2 linked regions of the Homo sapiens genome follow. The protein of the gene in region 1 interacts with the protein of each later gene in a pairwise test. Each region holds a gene or a part of one and is shown in the gene's direction. Other genes may lie near its edges.

Evidence for each region.
Region 2: the proteins of SDSL (region 1) and TUBGCP4 interact in a two-hybrid assay, tested with the Homo sapiens proteins (2 studies listed by BioGRID and IntAct).

What each region holds. Positions count from the first base shown.
Region 1 is NC_000012.12:113,432,371-113,435,720, forward strand, and holds part of SDSL (serine dehydratase-like), read left to right. Parts: intron 1-1,763; coding exon 1,764-1,852; intron 1,853-2,958; coding exon 2,959-3,186; intron 3,187-3,350. UniProt on the Homo sapiens protein: Catalyzes the pyridoxal-phosphate-dependent dehydrative deamination of L-threonine and L-serine to ammonia and alpha-ketobutyrate and pyruvate, respectively. Also exhibits racemase activity towards L-glutamate and D-glutamate.
Region 2 is NC_000015.10:43,381,086-43,384,737, forward strand, and holds part of TUBGCP4 (gamma-tubulin complex component 4), read left to right. Parts: intron 1-2,217; coding exon 2,218-2,419; intron 2,420-3,652. UniProt on the Homo sapiens protein: Component of the gamma-tubulin ring complex (gTuRC) which mediates microtubule nucleation.

The sequences.
Region 1 (3,350 bases):
CTTGCTCTGTTGCCAAGCTGGAGCGCAGTGGCGCCATCTTGGCTCACTGCAACCTCCACTGTCCGGGTTCAAGCGATTCCGCTGCCTCAGCCTCCTGAGTAGCTGGGATTACAGGTGCACGCCACCACACCCGGCTATTTTTTTGTATTTTAGTAGAGACGGGGTTTCACCATGTTGGCCAGGATGGTCTGGATCTCCTGACCTCAGGATCTGCCTGCCTCGGCCTCTCAAAGTGCTGGGATTACAGGCGTGAGCCACTGCGCCCAGCTGACAGGTATTTTTCAACCTCTGCCACTCTCTCTCTCTCCCCACTTTTGGAGTCCCCAGTGTCTCTCGTTCCCATCTTTGTGCCCATGTTTATACCCAGTGTTTAACTCCCAGTTGTAAGTGAGAATATGCAGTATTTGGTTTTCTGTTCCTAAGTTAATTATCTTAGAATAATTGCCTCCAGCTGCATCCATGTTGCTGCAAAGGACATGATCTTTTTTTGTGGCTGCGTAGTGTTCCATGATGTATATGCACCACATTTTCTGTATCCAATCCACCATTGATGGGCACCTGGGTTGATTCCATGTCTTTGCTATTGTGAGTACTGCTGTGATGAACACACAAATGCAGATCTTTTTGGTAAAATGGTTTATTTTCCTTTGGGTAGATACTCAGTAATGGGATTGCTGGGTCAAATGGTAATTCTATTTTTAGTTCTTTGAGAAATCTCCAAACTGCTTCCTATTGGAGCTGAACTCATTTGCATTCACACCAACAGTGTATTTTTTGTTTCAGTAACTCAGGGGAATGAGACTCTTCTCTTCAGCCAGATGGGAAATTCCTTGCAGTCAGAGACCATTTCTTGGCTTCTCTCCTGCTGAAGAGTCCCCATACCTAGAACTGGGCACAGAGTGGGCACTGCAGAGTCCCTGAGGATGAGCAGGGGCTAGTTCTGCCCCCCTTGTGACCCTCCATCCCTCCCTTGGGAGAGGAGGCCATTGTCTACCATTTAGTTTCTGTATCTGGTTCCTGCTGAGATCGGCTGGCATGGGGTCCCTCTGAAATGCTGTCTTAGTTTGGATTCTCCCAAAAGCGGTCCCTGAAATGAGGACTGGGGTGCATGTGGTTTATTTGGGAGGTGATTGCAGGAAGCATTGGTAGGGAGTGTAGAAATGAGTCAGGGAAGGGAAGAAAGCCTGTCAATGGTGTGTGAATGAGCAGGGGACCTGGATCTCTGCCACAGAGGCCAAGCCAGTGAGAAGAGAAAACTCACCCCTGCTGTGGTTGCCTTGGGTCCATCATGGTCAGGGCCGGCCCTATGTGCCATCTCTCTGGCTGCTTGAACTCAACTAGCAGGCCATCAGCTGGGCCATTGCTGGTTTCCACGGACACACTCTATGGTGACCAAGTTGCTATCTGGTGTTTGACTTTAGGGGGCTTCTCCCCTACTGGTTGGCTAGAAGTGGGCACCATGTGGCTGACCTTGGAGCTGACCCGCTCCCAGCCTCCCTGGCTGGCCTGGCCTGGTTTTCATAGTGTGGCAGTAGGACAGGTCGCTTGGGTATTGTGGAAAGCACATGGCATCTGTTTGTCCGCCTGGAAGTGCTTGTCCAATTCTCAGGAGGCCTCTGGGCCCACACCAGGTATGGTCTCATCTGCAGGGCTGTCCCCAGACTACTAGATCCTGGGGCCACCAAGGAGATCCTGGGCCTCTGCTCCGGCCTCCATAGCAGTCCCACTCCCGGCTGTTCTGAGGGCCCTTGGTTTCTCTGTAGGTCTGGGACGAGGCCAATCTGAGGGCGCAAGAGTTGGCCAAGAGGGACGGCTGGGAGAATGTCCCCCCGTTTGACCACCCCCTAATATGGTAAGGCTGACGCCCCTCTCCCCAGGAGTCCAGAGCTGGGAGACCTTCACTGAGTCAGGGTCCTCCCATTGGGCAGAAGGAGAAACTGAGGCCCAGAGGGGAGAAGAGGCTTCAAAGCCAGGCAGACATGGGTTCAGATCCCACTTCTGCCCCCTTGTGAATTGTGGGACTTTGTGCAAAGCACCCCAGATCCTGTGCCTCAGTTTCTATGTGTGTAAAATGGAAGTGATAGTACCAAGTCTCCTTTACTGAATATGTGCTTTGGGACCAGGCACCAGGCTAATGGCTCCTCCTGCACTGTTCTATTTACCCTCCCCAAAGCCCTAGAGGTGGGTGCTATTATCCCCATTTCATAGGTGAGGAAACTGAGGCACATCGAGGTCAAACAACTTGCCCCGGATCACACAGCTAAGTACATGGCAGATACAAAGGGCTGCAGTCAGGCTGGTCCCAAGTGATACACTTGTCCCCTCTTAACCACACATTGCCATTGCCTCTTTGCAAAGTTGGGGAGGGGGCTAAATTGGGATAATGTCCAAGAAAGGGCCTGGGAGGTTGATGGAGATGGGAAGGGATGAGCAAACAAATACATAATAAAGAAAATGAATGAGGCCAGGCGCGGTGGCTCACGCCTGTAATCCCAGCACTTTGGGAGGCCGAGGCGGGTGGATCACCTGAGGTCAGGAGTTCGAGGCCAACCTGGCCAACATGGCAAAACCCTATCTCTACTAAAAATACAAAAATTAGCTGGGCGTGGTGGTGCGCACCTTTAGTCCCAGCTACTCGGGAGGCTGAGGCAGGAGAATCGCTTGAATCCAGGAAGTGGAGGTTGTAGTGAACTGAGATCGTGCCACTGCACTCCAGCCTGGGTGACAGAGTGAGACTCTATCCAAAAAAATAAAAATAAAGAGAATGAATGAAGCTGAGTGAAGTAACTGTTGCAGGACTTCCTCTCCCCTCACCGTGGATGGGATGGGGATGGTGGGGAGGGGTTTATGTATATGAGGGGGCAGAGAACCCACCCCTGGTAAATTCCCCCACCACAGGAGCCATCTGGGCTGGGGTCCTCCCTCACTCTGCTTCTCCCTCTCACCCCCCCTCCCCAGGAAAGGCCACGCCAGCCTGGTGCAGGAGCTGAAAGCAGTGCTGAGGACCCCACCAGGTGCCCTGGTGCTGGCAGTTGGGGGTGGGGGTCTCCTGGCCGGGGTGGTGGCTGGCCTGCTGGAGGTGGGCTGGCAGCATGTACCCATCATTGCCATGGAGACCCATGGGGCACACTGCTTCAATGCGGCCATCACAGCCGGCAAGCTGGTCACACTTCCAGACATCACCAGGTGGGTAAGGGCTGGGGACATTTGTAGGGGCTGGAGGGTGGGTGTGCCACTGTCCTAGGGCCTTCCAGTCCCAGCCGGTGGAGACGGGGGCACCCAAAAGGCTGTCCTTGGTCCTGGGACTCCAACCACAGTAAAGTGGACCTGAGTTAGAAGGCAGTGCTGAA
Region 2 (3,652 bases), on another chromosome or scaffold:
TGTGAGCCACCGCACCCGGCCACTCACAACTCTTAATCTCCACTCTAACCACTGCATGAGTAAATCCTCCAGAACATTCCTTAGGGACTTAATTCTCTATTATACTTTTGTGTATAGAATATAAAATCTAATGTAGATGATACTATATATACATGTTTGTTCTGTGTTTGCAGGGACCAAACTTTACAGACCACATACTCAGAAATGCATAAATGTAAATAGCTTCACATTTGATCTTTTTAAAGAGAGATTCCATTCAGTTAAATAACACAGTCAAGTTCTTGTAATTTCTTTTTCTCCCAACCTTTTATTTTGAAAAATTTTAAACCTACAAAAAAGTTGAAAGAAACGTATAATAAAACACTTGTAGGCTGGGCTCGGTGGCTCACGCTTGTAATCCCAGCACTTTGGAAGGCTGAGGCAGAGGGATCGCTTGAGCCCAGGAGTTCGAGACCAGCCTGGGCAACATAGCGAGACCCTGTCTGTACCAAAAATAAAAAAATTAGCCAGGTGTGGTGCCTGCCTGTAGTCCCAGCTACGGGAAGCTGAGGCAGAAGGATTGCTTTAGCCCAGGAGGTTGATGCTGCAGTGAGCTGAGATCTCGCCACTGTAATCCAGCCTGGATGACAGAATGAGACCCTGTCTCAAAACAAAAAACAAAAAAAACCAACCAAACGCTAGTGTATCCTTTAGTTTCACCATTTGTTAACATTTGCCACGTTTGATTTCTCTTTTTCTCCTTCTATACGTATATGTGAAATGCACAAATTTTTTTGCAGAGTCATTTGAAAGTAGTCACAGATACCCTAACACTTAAATACTTCAGCTTGTATCACTTTAGAAAAAAGGCATTCTTGGCTGGGCATGGTGGCACACACCTGTATTCCTAGCACTTTGAGAGGCCAAGGTGGGTGGATAGCTTGAGCCTAGGAGACCAGCCCAGGCAACATAGTGAGACCCCGTCTCTACAAATACAAAAAAAGTAGGCATGCTGTGTGCGCCTGTGGGCCCAGCTACTTAGGAGGCTGAGGTGGGAGGGTGGCTTGAGTCCAGGAGGTCGAAACTGCAGTGAGCCATGATCGTGCTACAGCACTCCAGCCTGGGCAACAGAGTGAGACCCTGTCTCAAAAAAAAAAGAAAAAAGAAAAAAAGAAAAATAAAAGAAAAAGGGATTCTCTTATAGAACATCAATTCCATATTACACCCAAGAAAGTTAACATTAATTCAGTAATACTATATCCAAATTTTTCTAGTTGTCCCTCAGAATTCCTTCATAGCTGTTCTTTTTTTGCAATCCAGGATCCGATCAGTGTTCACATACTACATTTTGTTCTCATGTCTTTTTAGTCTCCTTTAATTTAGAACCGTCCCCCTTGCCTTTTGTTGTTCTTGGTGTTTTGGATGACGCTGACATTTTAAGAGTCCTGACCAGCTGTCCTGTATAATGTTTCACAATCTGGATTTATTGTTTCCCTATGATTAGATTCAGATTAAACATTTTTTGGCAAGAATACTATGTAGGTGATATTATTTCCCATTACATCATATTAGAAGGTACAGAAAGTAACTTTATCCCATCACGGATGTTATGAAGTTGGATCACTTGGCTTAGGTGTTTTCATCACGTCCTGCTCCATTATAGAGGTACATTTTCCCCTTTTTAATTAATATGCTATCTGGTGGGTGATCCTTTGAGACCATCTGAATATCCTATTCCCCAACAACCATTCTGCATTTTGTTTTAGTTTCTGAATTTTGCTAGATAATGGTTTTTCATGTATACCTGGCACTCACGTATTGAATATTCTCTCCCTAAGTGATTCCAACAAAAATAAAACAAATTTAATACTGTGTTAGCCAAAAAGAGACTCCATTAAGTCGATTTTTAAAATTTTTTATTATTTTTATTTTTTATTGCTATAAAACAGTTGTACATATTTAGGACCCATCAGTTTTGAAAATTACATAAAAGAAGGGAAGAAAATGTCTTCCCTAAAATAATATCAGCACATATACTGAACATTTTAGATTTCATTGTGTAGGCTGCAAATATGGAAATTCAGTGAGTTAGTTCACCCACATTTAAATTAAAATAGCACAATTATTTTTAACTTAATTGGTTATTTCTGTTATGACTCATCAAATTCTCAGGCCTCTGTTTATCCTGTAACAGTTTAAAGCATGACTTCTGAGCCTCTTACTTTCTACTCTGCCCAGAATCCTGGCCGTTTGTCATGGGGTCATGTATAAACAGCTCTCAGCCTGGATGCTCCATGGACTCCTCTTGGACCAGCATGAAGAATTCTTTATCAAACAGGGGCCATCTTCTGGTAATGTCAGTGCCCAGCCAGAAGAGGACGAGGAGGATCTGGGCATTGGGGGACTGACAGGAAAACAACTGAGAGAACTGCAGGACTTGGTGAGAGCCCAAAAAGTAGCCTAGCACTCTCCTGCCAGGAGTCAGAAAAGCATGCACACAAATGATCTTCTGGTGATCCCTTCTTAGCTCATAGCTGAGCACCTTCCATCAATCCTTTCGATGTAAACATTCGGCTTTATCTTAACTAGTGTGAGACTATAAAATAGAAAATATGTTTGTGATATTCTTTTTGTTTCCTCTTTCCCAATATATGCATTTGAGAGATTATAAGTCTTACTTATGTAGCTACTCTAATGGAGCAGCTAGCTACATTTTAGATTTTAAATACAGTTTGGAGTTTTGTTTTTTTTTTTAAAGACAGATTCTCACCCATCGCCCAGGCTGGAGTGCGATGGCGCAATCTTGGCTCACTGCAGCCACTGCCTCCCAGGTTCAAGCAATTCTCCTGCCTTAGCCTCCCAAGTACCTGGAACCAGGCATGTGCCACCATGCCTAGCTAATTTTCATATTTTTTATTTTCATATTTTTAGTAGAGACAGGGTTTTGTCATGTTGGCCAGGCTGGTCTCGAACGCCTGACCTCAGGTGATCCACCCGCCTCGGCCTGTAAGTGTTGGGATTACAGGCATGAGCCACCGTGCCTGGCCAGTTTGGTGTTTTGATTAGACTCCTCAAAGTTCTACATTGTCCATATTCATCCATTCATCCATCCATCCATTCATTCATTTATCCTGTGGCAATATTTCATTGAATGCCTGTTATGTGCTAGGCATTGTTCTAGGTGCTACAAATAAAAAGTAGTAGTGTCTGTCCCTAAGGAGCTCATAGTTTAGGGGAAGAGATATAGAAAAGTAAACAGTTACATTACAGTGTGCTAAGGGCTCTGAAAAGACTAAATATGGGTATTCTTGGAACATGGTCATGGGATAGGGTCTTGGAGTGACTAGGGAAGGCTTTTCAGTGGAAGGTATGTCTAAATTGCAAAGAGTTTGGGAGGAGCCATCAAGAGACATCCAGGCAGAAGGAATGATATGTGTAAAGGTACAGGGGCCATTAAGGACATGGTTCATTTGGGGAAACAGTAGTAATTCAATTGAAATGATCAAATAAAGGCTGAAGTAAAATGTTACAAGAGATGGTGTGAGGGAGAGGTGGTACTTGAAACTGTGTAAGTTGGTACTTGATGAAACTTGAGTTAAGCAGAGGCAAGATCACAAAGGTGCATGTAAACAGTGGAAATGAGTTTGTACTTGAACCTGAAAAGAGTTGGGGG